Regions from separate parts of the Homo sapiens genome. Here region 1 is linked to region 2. The links come from fine-mapping of genetic effects on gene expression. A gene starts in region 2. The other region holds a variant in brackets. All regions are shown on one strand. Distances are from middle to middle.

Region 1 (10,052 bases), 22 kb after region 2:
AGAAGCACTAATTATTTAAATCATTTCATGGAGAGCCATATACGTTTGGAGAAAAACAAATTGTCAGTCACTTCTTTTCCTTCTAAACATGTCCCATCTGCAGAAACCAGGAGCCTCTTCCACAGGGATGAAAGCTATTTCTACTTTTAAGGGAACTTGGAAATCTCACATGAGTCTTCTGGGATGATTGCCTTGAGTCTTATCTTTGCTTTTTTGTCTTTCACACTGTCACCATCTCCATTCTCAGCACATTAGGAACCGGGGGAAATGTGATGAAGCTTTATAAGTGAGGAGAGACTCTTTCTTTCTTAATTGATGTTTTCTCTCTTCTTCCTAGGGTGTGGATGGCGTCATAAAAAGGTATGTGTGGGAGGACAGAGATGGTCCTTTTGTGCAGTGAGGAGAGATTTATAGCCATTAGAATTGTCCTGGGTTTAATTAGAATAAAACATCTCCCAGGGCAGAAAAATTTCGATATTGTTTTATCATAAATTTCTGGTCATAAATCAGCATTCGAATGTTCTATAACTATTAAGAATAGACCAGATTTGGCCAGGTGTGGTGGCTCAAGCCTATAATCCCAGCACTTTGGGACGCCGAGTCAGGAAGATCAGGAGTTTGAGACTAGCCTGGCCAACGTGGCAAAACCCTGTCTCTATCAAAAAAATACAAAAATTAGGGGGGCGTGGTGGCCCGTGCCTGTAATCCCAGCTATTCGGGAGGCTGAGGCAGGAGAATTGCTTGAATCCAGGAGGCAGAGGTTGCAGTGAGCCAAGACCATGCCACTGCACTCCAGTCTGGGCGACAAAGTGAGACTCTGTCTTAGAAAAATCAATAAAATTAAATAAAATTAAAAAAAAGAAAAGGAATAGACCAGATTCTATGGTAGAAAATTTGGGTGGTGGAGACTCGGAGTGTGGGTCAGTAGTGGTTTCAGGGAGAAGGTGTTGCAGTGTTGGACCCCTGCGCCATCACCATTTTATTACCTACATCTAGTTCTCTTTCTGTATTTAATAGGTTCTTGATTTATTTTGGATGGGCCATATCTTCTTTTTCTCTTATATACCCCTAATTGTCCATTGGGACAATTCCCACATGTTTATATTTTCCTCCTGGAAAAAGACCAGTTCCTCTTCATTTATATTTAGATTTCCAAAATCAGATGTTTATTTCCGGAATAATATTTCAAAATAATATTCTGGATAATATGTGGTCATGGTACAAAGAATTGATCCACCTCAGTTGCATTCTTTACAAGAGCATAAAAAGGTGCTATTCTTGTGTCTAAAATCGCACACCTCGCACACCTACGTGGTGGTATCAAGTTCTTTCTAACCACACGATATTCAGGCCAGTAATAGTTTAGTGCACATAATTTCTCATTTGCCAAGTGTTTGTAATTTTTCCCGGAAATCTGAAACCTTAGATGTTATCTGAGTACCTCCCTGCTGGGAATAGCTTTGAAGGTCTTAGGCCTCTCCAAACAGGATTCCTCTCTTGATATGTGTCAAACACCCAGGAGCCAGGTTCTGCAACCTCACTTTCTAACCATCTCCCTGGGAACTCAACATACATAGCGATGATGTTTCCACCCATTAAATGTTAGGGTTTCTTTTGTAAGGCACCAAAGTTTTGTTTTGTTTTGTTTTAAAATCCTTTTTTTTTTTTTTATGTCCTATGAGTTTAAGAATGTAGACAGGGAGAGGTTAATTATTTCATTTTAGAAGGAAGAAACTGTGCTTCTGAGAGGTTAAGATCTTCCCACGTTCTCACAGAAAGTAAGTGGGAAGGCAAACATGAGAACATTTTGTTTGCCTCCAGGGTCAAGAGTTTGCACTCTCCCTTCTCAGGATCCCCAAGAAGAGAGTTCAAGTGCCTCAATGGGTTGAAATGATAGGAAGTCAGGGGTGTTCCACGGACACAAGGTCAAAGGTTTGGAAGTTTTTTTTTTTTTTTTTAATTCTTAGGACGGAGAACGTGACCTTGAAGAAGCCAGAAACTTTTCCAAAAAATCAAAGGAGAGTGTTTCGAGCTCCTGATCTGAAAGGAATGCTAGAAGTGTTTAGAGGTGAGGAGAGCTAGATCAACAACAGGGTTATGGAATTCAAGTGGTGTTAGGGTGCTAAATAGGGAAGAGGGTGCAGTTTCCAAATATGGATAGAGGGGATAGGGGAGGATAGATATTGTCTGCTGCTGATGGGATTATATTTAATGGGAAATGGCTAGGTGGCTGTTTCATCTCATCATTCAGCAATTTACTGCCCTACCATAGGGCATACCTACTCTTTCCCTAATCTGGAGAGAAAATGAATTTCAGTGCTGACTCCTTTGTTTGTATTCAATATTGTGCATTTTTATCATTTCAGAGCTGACAGATGTCCGACGCTACTGGGGTAAGGAGAAGTCACATTATCATAAGCCACCCTGCGGCTTATCATTATTATTATCTTTATCTTTTAGAATTTTATGTTCTCTATTAGGCTCATGTTTTAAGATTTATGATTCTCCTTCCAAGACACACATAACTTACCCCTCCTTATAACTTCTAAACAAGGTTCCTCCCAGTTTTCTCTCAAGTCTTTATCAAGATTTCTCTCATATCACAAATAAAGTTACATTATATCCCTTAGCTGACCTGTTAATTTTTCTACAGTTGATGTGACAGTGGCTCCAAACAACATTTCATGTGCTGTCATTTCTGAAGATAAGAGACAAGTGAGCTCTCCGAAACCACAGATAATATATGGGGCACGAGGGACAAGATACCAGACATTTGTGAATTTCAATTATTGTACTGGCATCCTGGGCTCTCAAAGTATCACATCAGGGAAACATTACTGGGAGGTAGACGTGTCCAAGAAAACTGCTTGGATCCTGGGGGTATGTGCTGGCTTCCAACCTGATGCAATGTGTAATATTGAAAAAAATGAAAATTATCAACCTAAATACGGCTACTGGGTTATAGGGTTAGAGGAAGGAGTTAAATGTAGTGCTTTCCAGGATAGTTCCTTCCATACTCCTTCTGTTCCTTTCATTGTGCCCCTCTCTGTGATTATTTGTCCTGATCGTGTTGGAGTTTTCCTAGACTATGAGGCTTGCACTGTCTCATTCTTCAATATCACAAACCATGGATTTCTCATCTATAAGTTTTCTCACTGTTCTTTTTCTCAGCCTGTATTTCCATATTTAAATCCTAGAAAATGTGGAGTCCCCATGACTCTGTGCTCACCAAGCTCTTGAACCTTCTTACACACTCAGCCCCTTCTGTACAGCACCTCTTGTCCAGGTGCATCTCATACACCTGAACTCATTTGCATCATTTTAACCATCTTTTCCTTGCTGTCTCCCTTCTTTCTATTTGAACGTCCTTCACTCATCAGTAAAATGTAATAATTGCCTTGTGCCATATTGTCCCCAATATTTTATTGACATTTGATAGCAATTTTTTTCATCATTTTCCGTACTCCTAAGGAAAACTGACCTATACCTCATAAAATGAGACCGCTATTTAGGTATTACTTCTGCCAGATATTTATCACCCAATTGCCTCTGACACTGACTAAGAAGATGAAGAAAAGCTTTTCAACAGCCTTTCTATATCATCGTGTGATAATTGTTCACCAATGAATGAGTCCTTAGCCCTGTGTCAGTTTACCCTCGATGCCCTTATTTGTGAGTTAAAGAGAAAATATCATAAATGGTATACTCTTAAGTATAGAGGTTTTGTATCTAGAGGATCTCAGTTCAACTCCTGTCTCTCCATATACCAGCAGTGTAACTGTGAATAACATACTTAAATGGCTGTGCTTATTTCCTTTTCTTTTCTTTTTTCTTTTTTTTTTTTTTTGAGATGAAGTTTTGCTCTTGTTCCCCAGGCTGGAGTGCAATGGCACGATCTCGGTTCACTGCAACCTCCACCTCTCAGATTCAAGCAATTCTCCTGCCTCAGCCTCCCAAGTAGCTGGGATTACAGGTGCCCACCACCACCCCTGGCTAAATTTGTATTTTCAGTAGAGACGGGGTTTCCCCATGTTGGTTAGGCTCGTCTAGAACCTCTGACCTCAGGTGATCCACCCGCCTCGGCCTCCCAAAGTGCTGGGATTACAGGCGTGAGCCACGGCGCCCAGCCTGTGCTTATTTTCTTAAAATAATTTTTGTATTAAAAACTTCACATTAAATAAGTGCTAATGTTTTATTGCATAGTAGGGTGACTAGAGTTAACAATAACCTATTGCATATATTTTGAAATAGCTAGAAGAGAGGATTTTGAAAGTTCTCAACACAAAGAAATGACACATATTTGAGGTGATGGATATGCTAATTACCCTGGTTCGGTTATTACGCAATGTATACATGTATCAAAACATCACACTGTACCACATAAATATGTATATTTATTATTTGTCAATTAAAAGCAAAATAAAACAAAAAACCTTCATCTAATACTTTGGATCATTGTGAAAAAATAAATTCCTGAAGTATAAAGCATCTATCTAAGTGTCTTGATCTAATAAGTACTTGTTCTACAAATTATTGAAAAACATAAACTCTGTTAATGTCTCATGGAACAGGTTGTGCCTTCAGGGAAACTAGGATTGGATTTACTAAATTCTCATTTTTTAGATCTCAGATACTACTGTCAAAATGACTTCAATTCTGCCTTCTATATATAATACACACATATATTTAGGATTTTATTGTAATTCTAGTGTTGCTACATATTAGTCTTTATCAAACAAACTGAATTATGTGGGAATCAGTTTATTAATTGTAAAAAATAATTATAATAAAATTAGCTGATGTAGTTTTTTAAAAGTTAAACGAGTTTTTTGAATAGCTTCACTCATTTCTAGCATGTAAGGGGTAATCCATTATGGTGTTGGGCTTTTTTGTTTGTTTGTTTGTTTGTTTGTTTGTTTGTTTTGAGACAGGGTTTGTCTCTGTCACCCAAGCTGGAGTGCAATGGCACGATCTCGGCTCACTGCAACCTCCATCTCCAGGGTTCATCCTTCCACCTCAGCCTCCTGAGTAGCTGGGACTACAGTCACGCACCACCACGCCCTGGTTATTTTTTGTATTTTTGGTAGAGACAGGGTTTCACTATGTTGCCCAGGCGGATCCCGAAGCCCTGGGCTCAGGCGATCTGCCCACTTTACCTCCCAAAGTGCTAGGATTATAGGTGTGAGCCACCATGCCCGGCCTCATTATGGTGTCTATTAATTTTTGGTTCCCTCTCACTGTGACTGAAAGCAATAATTTTTAACAATATGTAATAGTTCTTTTCAAAATTATCTTTCTCCCTTCGTTTGAAGAAATACAAGAACTAAGTTAAAAATCACAGATTTTTCTTGTAGAAAGTTTTAAAATAAGTGTTTATAAATGGGAAAAAAAATCTTTGTTCTTAATTTCATAGCTGCCTAGTCTTAAGTTGTTTTAAGTATTTCTGAGTACTCTAATTTCATTGTAAATTTTTCCTGTTTGCCAAGTAGTAAAAACGTATTTTGCACAGTGATGCAGATAAAGTCAGAAGTACATGTGGCATTTCTCAACAATGGTATCGATAAGTGAATTGTGAGCCCAGGTTAGCCTGACTCTTCATTAAAGTAACAAAGGCATGGTAATTTTCATAAATGACAAAAAAATACTTGTTCTCCTTGTTCAGTGAGGAGAATTATTTTTGCAACGGATGTTTATGAAGGGCATGGTAGGAT[C/T]CCTATGTCTATTGGCATTTTTATTTCCAACTCTTTCCCAAGTTTTGAGCTGAAGTTTTTTGTTTTGTTTTAATGGTCTACCTCATCAAATAGTCTCTGCTCTTCACCCTGCTTCCCCACAGAAATTTTAAGGTCTCTATCTTTGTGGTAACTTTAGTCAGAGAAGGGATTCCAAGGTGAATATTTTCAGTAACTATGTGTGTGCACACACCTCTCTACCTCAGCACCATCCAGGGAAACCGAGGAGGTTGATGCTATAAATTTTCCCTTTTACCTCTGCTTTCCTGTCACCCAATGCTATGAAGATTGAGGCTTTCACTCACTGGGAACAGTCTGGACTAGCTTGAATTATTGGCAAGTGACTCTCCAGGGACATTAATGCCTTTTCATTTCCTGGAAAGCCAAGTCCCACAGCTCAGGATGAAGTACCCAGTTACACAACAATAAAGACCTGAATTTGTATATACAACAGAAAAGATCTGCACACTGAAGGATTTTTTCAAACAGATGCTCCTGGCCCTAGTAATGAACCTCTCAGCTGAAAAGAATATGAAGCTTATGAATTGCTCTGAGTTACACTCCGTCTTCTCAGTAAAAGGCTGAAGAAGGCAACCTGTGCTCCAAAAGGCTAATGGACGTCAACTGTGGATTTTCTCTCTGCCTGTGTATCAGTTCTAGGATGTTCCCTCCCCATCACTTCTGAACCTCTGAGTAACAATTATGTCGTCTTCTATTCTGAGACTTCAGATCTATGCTGGGCCATTAATTAGGCATATCTGGCTAGAATTTTGGTACAATCTGGGGAGAAGCACAGAGAAAAGAGGTTGTGAAAAAAAACAGGGATTGCTTGAAGACTGTTCTGCAGGACACTGAGTAAAGAATGGGAGCAGGCCTCAAGCAGAAACCAGTGGGAGGACAAAGAATACGAAGAAGCAGAATGAGAGTTCGTAGGGGCTAAAGAGAAGGTGCCCTGATGAAGAGCCAATTCTAAGATTCAAAGGGAGAGAAAAGTAAAAGAACGTTTATATGATGTGTTGGAGGGATGGGATGGAATAAGCATCGGGCAGAGGAGAGCTCTTTGGAAAAGAGATCTCTTTGGTTTTTTTCTTTGGACATTGCAACCAATACTCCTTCTTGATGCTATACTTGTCACAAGGTAACAATTATGTTCTGAGCTCCTTGATCCTATTCAGTATCAATAAGATACATAAGTTAAATCTCATAATATGCCTAAACATATATCTAATCTTTTTTTTTTTTTTTTTTTTTTTTTTTTTTTTTTTTTTTTTTTTTTTTGAGACGGAGTCTCTCTCTGTCGCCCAGGCTGGAGTGCAGTGGCGCGATTTCGGCTCACTGCAACCTCCACCTCCTGGGTTCACGCCATTCTCCTGCCTCAGTCTCCCGAGTAGCTGGCACTACAGGCACCTGCCACCATGCCCAGCTAATTTTTGGTATTTTTAGTAGAGTCAGGGTTTCACCGTGTTAGCCAGGATGGTCCCGATCTCCTGACCTCAAGATCCGCCCGCCTCGGCCTCCGAAAGTGCTGGGATTACAGGCGTGAGCCACTGCGCCCGGCCTATCTAAACTTAATAATATCTTTGTATTAACCACCATACTCCAACACCACCATTATTTTCTTTCTGAATTATGTGGCAGTGCAAAACATTACAACCACACTGAAAAAAAAATCCGGCAGTTTGGTAGAGAAAGAAAGCGTAAAATCAATCAATTTAACATATAGTTAAAGATTGTCTAGAGTGAGCAAAACTGAGGTTCTATTTCCATTAATGAAGGTATATATTCTAATAAAACTGCATGCCCTCACCCACAGATCCAACATTAGAAACCTTGGACAAAATGTAAAAATCAAACCTGAAGGCACTAGAAAGTGACAAGCAATCAGAATATTCAGGGTAATAGACACTTAGAAAAAGACAACAGTATTGGGGGAGTTTCCTGTTTCTGTGGCTTTTCACTTGAAGGCAGACCTCAGTTGTTACTGGGTAGAACACTAAAAACTCAGTTAACAATATATGTACTTGCTGCTTTGAAAAACAAGAATGAGCCGGACGCAGTGGCTTACGCTTGTAATCCCAGCACTTTGGGAGGCTGAGGTGGGCAGATCACAAGATCAGGATTTCGAGACCAGCTAGGCCAATATGGTGAAACCCCGTCTCTACTAAAAACACAAAAATTAGCCGGGCATGGTGGTGGGCGCCTGTAGTCCCAGCTACTCAGGAGGCTGAGGCAGGAGAATCGCTTGAACCCAGGAGGCAGAGGTTGCAGTGAGCCGAGATCTCGCCACTGCACGTCAGCCTGGGCGACAGAGCGAGACTCCGTTTCAAAAAAAAAAGAATGATTTGTGCCTGCCATAGCAACTAGAAAATGATGGTAGAGTACCCGTAAAGAAGAGATATAGAGGAATAAATACCAAATTGTATAAACTCTAGTCAAGTCTCTAAAGTACATGTTTGAGACAGATGTGAAGCAGCCCAAAATAGGCTAAAGATTTCAGCTGCTGTATGTAGCAGGGAAAAATTAAGAATTTAATTTCAATCAAATTAACTACCTGAAAAAAAAAAAAGGCTTCAGAGAATTATACAGAATCCAGAACAGGAGCTTACAAAACAATAAAACCTGGGGATGGTAATGTTTCAGTATGTTCTATGGTCTGTACCATCTAGGCACTCAGTCACTACAGTTTTATTCTTAGTGCAGTTTACTACAGCAAGAATATTTGAATTAAAAGAATATGAATTACAGTTATACATTCTACAGCTTTGAATATACAGTGCTTTACCTGAGTACTTAGAATTTCCATGCAATTCTATAATTATTAGTTGAAGTTATCTTATACCTAAGCTCTAAGCATGTAGAATAATGACCCAGAACAACTTGACACCTAGCATCTTGAAATGCAATCTGATGGGGAAGACACTGAGTTATAAAGCTCTGCAAATTTGGGCTGACAAAATGAGTTATTAGTGAAATGAGAAAAGTTCCCTTGTTCCCTTTGCAGGGCATGCGACAGGGGGAATGGCTCGCTTCAGTGCCCTGCTGCTCAAAGCTCTAGGGGAGAATGCAGACGGGCAGGCTGTGGGGCTCTAACCCCACAGCAACCTCTAGGGGTGAGTGTTTACAGCTCCTGTGGGCCCCGCGGACATGTGTTACACTGTACTCTTTTTTTTTATACTTTAAGTTCTAGGGTACATGTGCACAATGTGCAGGTTTGTTACATATGTATACATGTGCCGTGTTGGTTTGGTGCACCCATTAACTCGTCATTTACATTAGGTATTTCTCCTAATACTATCCCTCCCCCAGGCGCCCACCCTACCACAGGCCTCAGTGTGTGATGTTCCCCGCCCTGTGTCCAAGTGTTCTCATTGTTCAATTCCCACCTACAAGTGAGAACATGCGGTGTTTGGTTTTCTGTCCTTGTGATAGTTTGCTGAGAATGATGGTTTCCAGCTTCATCCATGTCCCTGCAAAGGACATGAACTCATCCTTTTTTGTAGCTGCATAGTATTCCATGGTGTATAGTGCCACATTTGACCCAGCGATCCCATTACTGGGTATGTGCCCAAAGGATTATAAATCATGCTGCTATAAAGACACATGCACACACTGTACTCTTTCTAACAAAACTTCATGTCCTCACCCATAGATCAACATTAGAAACCTTGCACAAAATGTGAAAATCAAGTAAACCTGAAGGCACTAGAAAGTGACAAAAGCAGTCAGAATATTCAGGGTAATAGACACTTAGAAAAATATAACAGTATTGGAGGAGTTTCCTCTTTGCTGCCTGCAGGTGGCTTGTGTTTATCTGCTCTGACCCTCTGCCTTATTGCAAGGACAGAGGGCTTTCTGTATCCCAGGTTCTTGCCTTAACGTATCAGAAAAATTGGATCACACGTGGGCTTGGAGAACGAGTGCAAGGTTTTTTATCGAGTGGTAGTAGCTCTCAGCGAGGTGGATGAAGAGGCCAGAAGGAAGATGGAGTAGGAAGGTGGATTTCCCTGGAGTTGGGCCACCCAGCAGCCAGGCTGTCCTCTGACATCCCCGACCAATCTCTGCATCGGTCCATTGGTCGCTGGCCTTCCAGCATGTGCTGGTGCCTGTTGGTGTGTTCTTCTACCAATTTGCTACTCTTAACATTCAGTTGCTTGTGTCTCTTCCTGCTATAGGCACAGGATGGGGGCATAGCAGGCCAGGGTGATCTTGGAAAATGCAACATTTGGGCACAAAAACGGAAATTCCTGTCCTCACCTAAGTCTGTGGGCCCAGGCCCCAGGAGTGGAGGCTTTGTCAGGGACCGTGCCTTTCTCTTTTCAGCAC
Region 2 (10,052 bases):
CCTCTGCACAGAAATAAAATTGCTTTGCTGAGAAATCCTTTGTTTGAGTGCTCGTCTCCCTTAAGATTCTGAGCTTTATTTCCAACAAGGAAGGTGATGGAGGTACCTAGATTGAAGAAATGAATGGTCCCTCTAGGAAACAAGCAAGGCTTTTTGCTTTTGCAAACCTCTCTTCTTTAAAGGTTACCCCTCTCCCAGACTCAGTGCTTTCTTCCTCTGCCATCTCAGCAGACAGTTCACAAGCTGCCTCTTTTTGTTTATGCAGAGCAGCTTCAGAACTACAAATTAAACTCACCCAGACACAATCAATCTATTCTTCTCAAAGCCTCCCATTCTATGCTCCCACAGATTGCTCCACTCACCTTCAGTCCAAAGCAGAGGAGTCTTGAATCAGGGGAGAAGAGTGAAGGCAGGGCAGGAGCCGGTGTAAACCAGATTCACTCACCAAGCCAGAGGGCTGGTCTCCACAAATGAGTTTCCCCACAGGAGCTGAGTGAGAAACGAAAGTTAAATTCTCAGAAGTGAAAGAAAACAAAGGAAGCTGAACAAGAACTTACATAACAATAAACCCTGGGGAAAGTAATGCTACATTATGTTCTAGCATCTGCTGTACTGGCAAGGCACTCAGTCACTACTTCCTTATTCTTACTGTGGTTTACTCAAGCAAGAATATTTGAATAAAAAGAATGTGAATTACAGTTATACAGCTTGCCTGAATACTTAGAATTCCAATGCAGTCCTATAATTATTAGTCGAATTTATCTTATATTTAAGACCTAAGCCAGGAAAATAAAGATCCAGAGACTTGGGACCTAGCTTCTTGAAATGCAGTCTGACGAGGAAGATACTCAGTTATAAAGCTCTACAAATTTGGGCTGACAAGATGAGTATTAGCAGCTGACATTGTGAATGGTAAAAAAATTATTTTTATAAATAAAAGGATCTTTAGTGTGAGCCCATTGAAAAAAATGTTCTCAAAATGTCATTAAATCTTAAGAGTCCATCAATTAATTATCACTTCCTGCTCCTAATCCAGACAGACCAGATGAGGATGGATTCCAGAGAGTAATAGAGGTAAAACTGTGTCAGTGTCATGTTACCCAGCCACTGAGGCAGGTGAGAACATGGAAGTTAACAGATGATGCTGTTTAATTATAATCATTCATTGAGTTACTCTCATGCCTTCATAATTTTTCCACTTTTCCCTGCTTCTCTAAGAAAAGTTTGGTCATTTTTACACAATCAATTAAAAAGCAGCACTGAAACATGTTATACGTCATGCACATACTTCTGTACCCTGTTGTCTATTGTATTCTTGTTTAACTGCATGTGCCAGATAATGCCATCAAAAACTGATGGAGGCCTGTGGTGTCTCATGCCTGTAATCCCAGCACTCTGGGAGGCCCAGGTGGGTGGATCACTTGAGTCCAGGACTTCAACACCAGCCTGGGCAACATGGTGAAATCCCATCTCTAAGAAAAATTAAAAAAAAAAAAATAGCTGGGTGTGGTGATGTGCACCTGTAGTCCCAGCTACTCAGGAAACTGAGATGGGAGGATGGCTTGAGCCCAGGAGGTGGAGGTTGCATTGAGCCAAGATTGCGTCATTGCACCATAGCACTGCAGCCTGGGTGACATAGTAAGACCCTGTCTCTACAAAAAACAAACAAACAAACACCACACAACACATACACACACACACCCAAAAAAAAAGAAAAAAAAAGGCAACTCATGGAGCTTCCATAACATGGATCCCTGACTGACACTATGGAGCATGGCCATCTTCATACTTTAATCAATGATACACATGTAGGATGACTGAGAAATCAATGTTTATTATTTCAATAATAGATATTTTGGTATTATTTGTTGCTCACAGAATAATAAGCTAATCCTGGCTATAAATTCTTTCCTACTCACTTATATCTATGAGGACCTTATTCAATCAGCTGAAAGCCAGAATAGAAGAAAAAACTGACTTCTCCCCGAGAAGAGGGAATATTACCAGCAGGCAAACCTCAGGCGTGAGCTATAACGTTGACTCCTTCTTGGATCCAGAGCCTCTTGGCCTACCTTGCAGACTTTGGATTTGCCAGTCTCCAGAATCACCTGAGACATTTCTCAAGTTTCTTTCCAAATAAATTCATAGTTTAGTGGTTCTATTGCTATGATGAACCTTGACTAAGACAGGCGTGAAATTTTCTTATTTCTTCTTGAAGATAAATAAGCAAGAGATGTAATTTTAGGTATATTCCATGTTTGAATAGAATATCTTGTTGACATTTGTAGGGGAGTGAGCGCTCAGTGAGTGAATGTGTTTTTTCTGGAGTGCACAGAGTGGAGTCCGAGTGTCAACCACAATGGACAAAGTGAATGAACTCATTTATCCAGAGACCTGTTCTCTGTCCATTATTTCTTCCCTTCTCAGCACTTCCATAGATCTCATAGCCATCCTTTTATTCTCGTCTGGCTTTGAACATCTGAAGTGAACTTTCATCCTGGTCTGATTTATCTCATGAAGTATTAATTGCAGCTGAGAGAAAACAGTAGTAATATTAGGTCCTGACAAGATACCAGAAAACGTGGGCCAATAGAAAAACTGAATGCACCACACACAGTTTATCACCAGAGTAGAGCATGTTGGCAGGCTCCATATTCTAACCTATGTTCTAAATTGTAGAAAAAATATATTATTGTTGGAGCTCTGTGTTTTCTCTGTAAACCCTTTTTTTTTTTTTTTTTTTTGAGACGGAGTCTCGCTCTGTCGCCCAGGCCGGACTGCGGACTGCAGTGGTGCGATCTCGGCTCACTGCAAGCTCCGCTTCCCGGGTTCACGCCATTCTCCTGCCTCAGCCTCCCGAGTAGCTGGGACTACAGGCGCCCGCCACCGCGCCTGGCTAATTTTTTGTATTTTTAGTAGAGACGGGGTTTCACCTTGTTAGCCAGGATGGTCTCAATCTCCTGACCTCATGATCCACCCACCTTGGCCTCCCAAAGTGCTGGGATTACAGGCGTGAGCCACCGCGCCCAGCCTGTAAACCTTATATATCCTGCTTTCCTGCTTGAAAAGGAATCAAATGAAATATCTCTACCTTTGGGTCCATGGATATTTAACATTTTTCTCTTCAAGAAAAAGAGCAAAATAAGAGTAAATATGGTTAGAGTCTGAATAATACTTAGGAAGAAAACAGAGAGGATATTTTAAAAAATCGTTTAAAATTTGTTTAAAAATTTACATAATTACTTTTTTTTTTTTTTTTTTTTTTTTTTTTTTTTTTTTTTTTTGAGACAGAGTCTCACTCTATTGCCCAGGCTGGAGTGCAGTGGCATGATCTCGGCTCACTTCAACCTCCACCTCCCGGGTTCACGCAATTCTCCTTCCTCACCCTCCTGAGTAGCTGGGATTACAGGCATCTGCCATTACACCTGGCTAATTTTTGTATTTTTCGTAGAGATGAGGTTTCACCATGTTGGTCAGGCTGGTCTCAAATTCCTGACCTCAAGTGATCCACCCGCCTTGGTCTCCCGAAGTGCGAGGATTACAGGTGTGAGCCACTGCAAATGTAATCATTACATAATTATTACTAATGCCACATAATTATTACTAAATAACAATTAGTAATATTAATTATAATTGTAACTATTAATAATTGTAATTATTAATAATACTAATTATTATAATTATTACTATAATTATTACTGCCACATAATTATTACTAATGCCAGAAGAATATTTGAATTAAACTAGGTGACACAGCAGTTATCTTTACAGCAAGAATAGAACAGAAATGTGACATCAAGATATTCAATTAAAATTAGATTAATAGCTATATATCTTCATATCTATTTAAATATTACTCCTTATATACACCATATTCTAGTAAATCTGAGACAATAAAGAACAAAATGCAAAAGCCCCCTACCTGATTTCATGAAACAGAAAGCTGCGGGGGTACAGTGTGGAGGGGGTATGAGGTTACTGATGATGGAATTAAGTGATAACAGGCTGCCCACTGCAGTGCTCCCCATTGCCTTCTCCTGAGGCATTTTCATTTTCAAACTAAATACTCCTCTCTACCAATGATCCTAGTTCCAGTGTGGACTTCCTGAGATGTTCCAGTAAGGGAAAGCTTAGAAGGGAGGCTATGGTACATGGACCACAGTTCAGCCTTTTGGACCAGTTTTGCATAGTAACCAGAAGAGAAGAGAGAGGAAGGCCTGGCCCTGCTCAGGGATGCAATAGATACTTTGGAAAAGACAACAGCGGGAAGTTGGAGAGTTCTTTGAAAGTGAATAGTTGAAAGAAATAATGTGGTATTTCTTTATCGCTCTCCAGATAAACTTCTTTTTTTTTTTTTTTTTTTTTTTTTTTTTGAGACGGAGTCTCACTCTGTCGCCCAGGCTGGAGTGCAGTGGCGCGATCTCTGCTCACTGCAAGCTCCGCCTCCCGGGTTCACGCCATTTTGCTGCCTCAGCCTCCGGAATAGCTGGGACCACAGGCACCCGCCACCATGCCCGGCTAATTTTTTATTTTATTTTATTTTATTTTATTTTATTAGAGATGGGTTTTCACCGTGTTAGCCAGGATGGTCTCGATCTCCTGACGTTGTGATCCGCCCGCCTCAGCCTCCCAAAGTGCTGGCATTACAGGCGTGAGCCACCGCGCCCGGCCCTCTCCAGATAAATTTCTAGCATCCTGTCCTCTCTGGGTTTCGGAGTCTTAATAATATGACATCTCTCCTACCTGCAGCTCCTTTTCTGTTCATAGGTCCTATAAGATTTTTAAGTCCAGACCAGAAATCTACTGCAATTCTCTAAAAATCATTAACTTTGTTCTTCCTTCTCTTTGGGCCATATCTGTCACCCAGAAGCAGAACTCAGCTGTGAGATCAGGAGCAAGAGGAGCACATTGGAAGAATTTCGAAAAAGGGCACCTTTTCTAATTTTTAATACTTGGCTGGGTTAATCTGAAACTATGTCAGAAGAAGTGGCATGATAACAAGATCCTGAGACTCAAGAGAAAAGGGAGATTGAGTGGGAATGCCTCTAGTTCCCACGGCTCCTCCTGTGAACAGCACAGCTACACGGCCCGGCTGATTCATTCAGAGGGCGGGACTCACCAGGCCCTACGTGGAGAAATGCCATTGGCCCATAGTTTATCTTTCACTTTCCTGCCCTGAGTGTGAGCAAGAATTTCCTGCGGTTCCTCTAGGAAAATTCCTTTGTGCAGATCAGGCCCGTGGATTGGTGAGTGAATCCTAACCACGTCTTCCCTGGCCTGTCTTCACTCTTCTCCCCAGAATCACCACTTCTGCACTGGTGTCTGAAGGTGTATTGAGTGATTTTGTGGAGGGCAGAAGTAGGAAGTCTTTGGGACAAAACTGTATTTACCTTGGTGAGTTTAACTTATCTGAAAAGCTGTGCGGGGGTGGGGAAAAGACACAGTTCACAGACTTCTTGCTGCCAGAGCTGACTGAGGGGAACAGAGCCGCCTGGCGGGCAGGCAGATTTGAAAGAAGGGAGAGCTTTAAAGTGAAGGGCTTTGTTTCCCGAAGGCTGGTTATTTTTCCATGCTGACTCTCTCCCCATCCCCTCCCTACTCTATACTTTTTAATTGAACTTTGCTGTAGAGAGCCAGAATTCTCTCTTTCAGTGTCTTCTCCCAACAACAAGGGCAAAGACAGGGGCCTTGGAATCCTAATGATTTAATGCCTATTAGTTTACTAATGTAGTGTTTCTGCATAACTCTACAGGTCAGTTCTCATCACCTTGGCCTGGCTCTGTGACATCAGCCTTCATGGTGTGACAGCTGTCCAGTTCTGTAGTCCTGTCATTGTCACTGTAAATGGAGTTCTTTCCCTAGTTCATATTGGTTACAAAGATAATGGGAAAAAAGGCAAGCAGGTTTTATTTCTTGCTAGGAGTGGAGAGTAAGAGAGCTCCTTCTCTAAAGCCCCCTCCCCCAAAACAGTGGAAAGCATTGGCTTTAAAAGAACTGAGTACGGGGAGAGAAAGGAGTGTTAGCCTATAGGGTGGAACTCCAGTTGTGCCACCTCTGTTTATAAACACATGTCTTCATACTGTGTCCGGAATTGGTGGGTTCTTGGTCTCACTGACTTCAAGAATGAAGCCGCGGACGCTTGCAGTGAGTGTTACAGTTCTTAAAGGCGGCATGTCCGGAGTTTCTTCCTTCTGATGTTCGGATGTGTTCAGAGTTTCTTCTTTCTGGTGGGTTCGTGGTCTCGCTGGCTCAGGAGGGAAGCTGCAGACCTTCGCGGTGAGTGTTACAGCTCATAAAGGCAGTGTGGACCCAAAGAGTGAGCAGTATTAAGATTTATTGCAAAGAGGAAAATAACAAAGCGTCCATAGTGTGGAAGGGGACCAGCGCAGGTTGCCACTGCTGGCTCAGGCAGCCTGCTTTTATTCTCTTATCTGGCCCCACCCACATCCTCCTGATTGGTCCATTTTACAGAGAGCCGAGTGGTCTGTTTTGACAGGGCACTGATTGGTGCATTTACAATCCCTGAGCTAGACACAAAAGTTCTCCAGTCCCCACTAGATTAGCTAGATACAGAGTGTAGACACAAAGATTCTCCACATCCCCACCAGAGTAGCTAGATACAGAGTGTCGATTGGTGCATTCACAAACCCCGAGCTAGACACAGGGTGCTGATTGGTGTGTTTACAAACCTTGAGCTAGATACAGAGTGCCGATTGGTGTATTTACAATCCCTTCGCTAGACATAAAGTTTCTCCAAGTCCCCACCAGAGTAGCTAGATATAGAGTGTCGATTGGTGCATTCACAAACCCTGAGCTAGACACAGGGTGCTGATTGGTGCATTTACAATCCCTTAGCTAAACATAAAGGTTCTGCAAGTCCCCACCAGACTCAGGAACCCCACTGGCTTCACGCAGTGGATCCTGCACCGGGCCGCAGGTGGAGCTGCCTGCCAGTCCTGTGCCATGCCACGCACCTGCACTCCTCAGCCCTTGGGTGGTGATGGGACTGGGCGCCGTGGAGCAGGGGGCGGTGCTCGTCAGGGACGCTCGCGCAGCACAGGAGCCCAAGGGGTCGTGGGGAGGCTCAGGCATGGTGGGCTGCAGGTCCTGAGCTCTGCCCCGCGGGGAGGCAGCTAAGGCCCGGCGAGAAATTGAGCACAGCAGCTGCTGGCCCAGGTGCTAAGCCGCTCACTGCCCGGGGCAGCGGGGCCGGCCGGCCACTCCGAGTGCGGGGCCCACCAAGCCCACGCCCACCCGGAACTCCAGCTGGCCCACAAGCGCGGCGCGCAGCCCCGGTTCCCGCTCGCCCCTCTCCCTCCACACCTCCCTGCAAGCTGAGGGAGCCAGCTCCGGCCTTGGCCAGCCCAGAAAGGGGCTCCCACAGTGCAGCGGTGGGCTGAAGAGCTCCTCAAGTGCCGCCAAAGTGGGAGCCCAGGCAGAGGAGGCGCCAAGAGCGAGTGAGGGCTGCAAGGACTGCCAGCATGCTGTCACCTCTCAATACAACCCAGGCACACAAAATGGTGGAGATTTTCTTGTTTGGTGTCGTGTGGGGGAGGGGGTAACTTAACACTCTAGTGATATGTTAATGATCTAAAGGCAATTAGGGATTGTCAGTTCCAGTATATACGCTGGTTCGGGGGTCTAATTTCCCCCTTGGATCTGGTCAGGGGTCAAGATCTGGACCATGCTGGGCAGTCTGGCTTCTTCTTAAGCAACTTTGTCTATACATAAAGGGAATAAAGAAAAACGTTAAGAAAAATAACTTTCCCAGTCATTTCATCAGGGCTTCCCTGGTGACAGCATCTGTTTGCCTCTACTAGGGCACCAAGTCCAGACTCAGGGAACTACTGGATTTTCTTAAAAATCATTAACCTTGCTCCTCCCTCTCCGTGGGCCGTATCTGCCCCCCAAAAGCAGAGCTTAGGTGAGATACGAAGAGCAGGAGAAGCATGTGGAAAGAATACCCAAGTAGCTGGGATTACAGGCACCTGTCACCAAGCTCAGCTCATTTTGTATTTTTAGTAGAGACAGAATTTCACCATGTTGGCCAGGCTGGTCTTGAACTCCCAGCCTCAGGTGATCCGCCTGCCTTGGCCTCCCAAAGTACTAGGATTACAAGCGTGAGCCACCACACCCGTCTGGTTAAGTTAAATATTAAAAGCTGAAGCCGGGCACGGTGGCTCACGCCTGTAATCCCAGCACTTTAGGAGGCCGAGGCAGGTGGATCACAAGGTCAGGAGTTGGAGACCAGACTGGCCAATATGGTGAAACCCCATCTGTACCAAAAATACAAAAATTAGCCGGGTGTGGTGGTGCGTGCCTGTGGTCCCAGCTGCTCGGGAGGCTGGGGCAGAGGAGTCACTGGAACCTGGGAGGCAGAGGTTGTGGTGAGCCGAGATTGTGCCATTGCACTCCAGCCTGGGCGACAGAGCAAGACTCCGTCTCAAAAAAGAAAAAAAAATATTAAAAGCTGATAGAGCCAGTGCCCTTATACAAAGGCTGGAATGTAACAGAAGCCCACTGAGAGTTTTGCCCAGGCCTTTCCTGGGCCTTGAAGCATGACAAGATAACGAAGGAATCGATTAGGACCTGTTTAGGATTAAACAAGTTTTATGGGGGTCTGAAGGAACTCCCAGGCCTCCACAAACAAGTTTATTGAGGGTCTGAAGGAACTCCGCAAACCTTAATGATTTAGCAGGAGAGACAAGATAAGGGTAATCACCCCAGCACCCGGACCCATCTAGATTAGGTAAATTTACTGAGGCACCAGAGGAAGGTCTTAAAACTCAGACCTTAGTTATAGATTTGAAGAAGTTAATCACTTATGTTTTTAGATGAATAATGCACACCTATACGTAGACGTATAGCTTAGAAGGTATATAAGCTCTGGAAAACTTTGTAATTTTGAGTTGGTCTGGAGATATTTTCTAGGCCTTCTCCCTGTACGCAGAAATAAAAATTCGCTTCTTTCCCAGTAAATCTGCATCTCGTTATTGGGCCGCAAGAAGCAGCAGCCGACCCTCCGTTTGTTCCGGGAACAGAATCATCTCATCTAATATTTTGAGACTTCTCTCTCAAGACTGATATCCACTGCCTCTGTGCTTCTAGTTTTCAAGTATCCAACATGTGTGGTCCACTGAGTATTTCTCTATCATCACCCTCTACACCATGTCTACACCTTTAGGCTCCAATAAATGTCCTTGGCAAACTTTCAGGATGAGACTCCTCAGAACCTCCCAGCTGTTGTGGATTCCTCTACTTCCACACCCCAATTGCTCTGGGTATTAATTGGATATATGCTGTTATCTCCATTTGTCATTGATTAACCAAAAGAGTAGCAAAGAGGCCAGTGAAAGAGGACCCTGAATACGAGGTCATCTCAGGTCACCATACTGAAGATAAATAATTTTTGTAAATCACTTATTATGTCTATTTATACATTTGATGAAACAGTCATTCACTCTGCTGATAATAAGAGCAATCATTGCAAACGTACAGTGCATGGTGAGATTTGTTACACTGCACATAAGGTAGTCAGAGCAGGTATTTTTGATAATATAACATGTAAGGAGAGAATTTAATAAAATCGTACTAACATCAGAGAAACATTTCATGCTGAGAGAAGAGCAAATGTGAAAGCCCTGAGGCATAAGCTGTTTGGTGATTTTAATACTGAGGATGTGTTTTGGCGTGGGAAAGAAAAGCCAGGAGAGATGATGGGTCACACAAAGATCTTGGTAGAAAAGACCTCAGTCTGTTTTCTATTCATTGAAAGTAAAGAAAAATGATAACCAATGCACAGATAAGAACAGAATTTGTCATATGACATGAACTGGCAGTAAAGTATTTAAGGTGATTATGAAAAGCCCTTATTACCAGGTAACCAAACACCTTTTCTTATTTCTCCCCTTTTTTTGTCCTTAATTATTTTCATCTTGCCCATTTTCTAATTGTGCACAATCAATATCCTTTCTATTTCTACCTTTCTTACTTGGTCCCATTTTAACCTTCCCAATCATGCAGGGATCTGTGAACAAGAGGAACCTCAGCAG

The links.
Region 1: its variant is fine-mapped to the expression of TRIM5 in whole blood (INTERVAL, PIP above 0.99).

What each region holds. Positions count from the first base shown.
Region 1 is chr11:5,657,997-5,668,048 of GRCh38, reverse strand. TRIM5 (tripartite motif containing 5) reads left to right here. Exons shown (of 8, transcript NM_033034.3): 5 at 338-360; 6 at 1,968-2,068; 7 at 2,367-2,393; 8 at 2,654-4,854. The coding sequence ends at 3,240. It overlaps LOC107984302 (a long non-coding RNA gene), which reads left to right and starts at 7,217. Exons shown (of 2, transcript XR_001748100.1): 1 at 7,217-8,839. The variant C/T (reference allele first, on the strand shown) is at 5,712.
Region 2 is chr11:5,680,210-5,690,261 of GRCh38, reverse strand. TRIM5 (tripartite motif containing 5) reads left to right here and starts at 5,188. Exons shown (of 8, transcript NM_033034.3): 1 at 5,188-5,394; 2 at 10,024-10,052. It overlaps TRIM22 (tripartite motif containing 22), which reads right to left and starts at 472. Exons shown (of 8, transcript NM_006074.5): 1 at 363-472. LOC124902620 (a long non-coding RNA gene) reads left to right here. Exons shown (of 2, transcript XR_007062561.1): 2 at 1-35. RefSeq lists enhancers at 1-367, 339-678, 1-792, 5,181-5,430.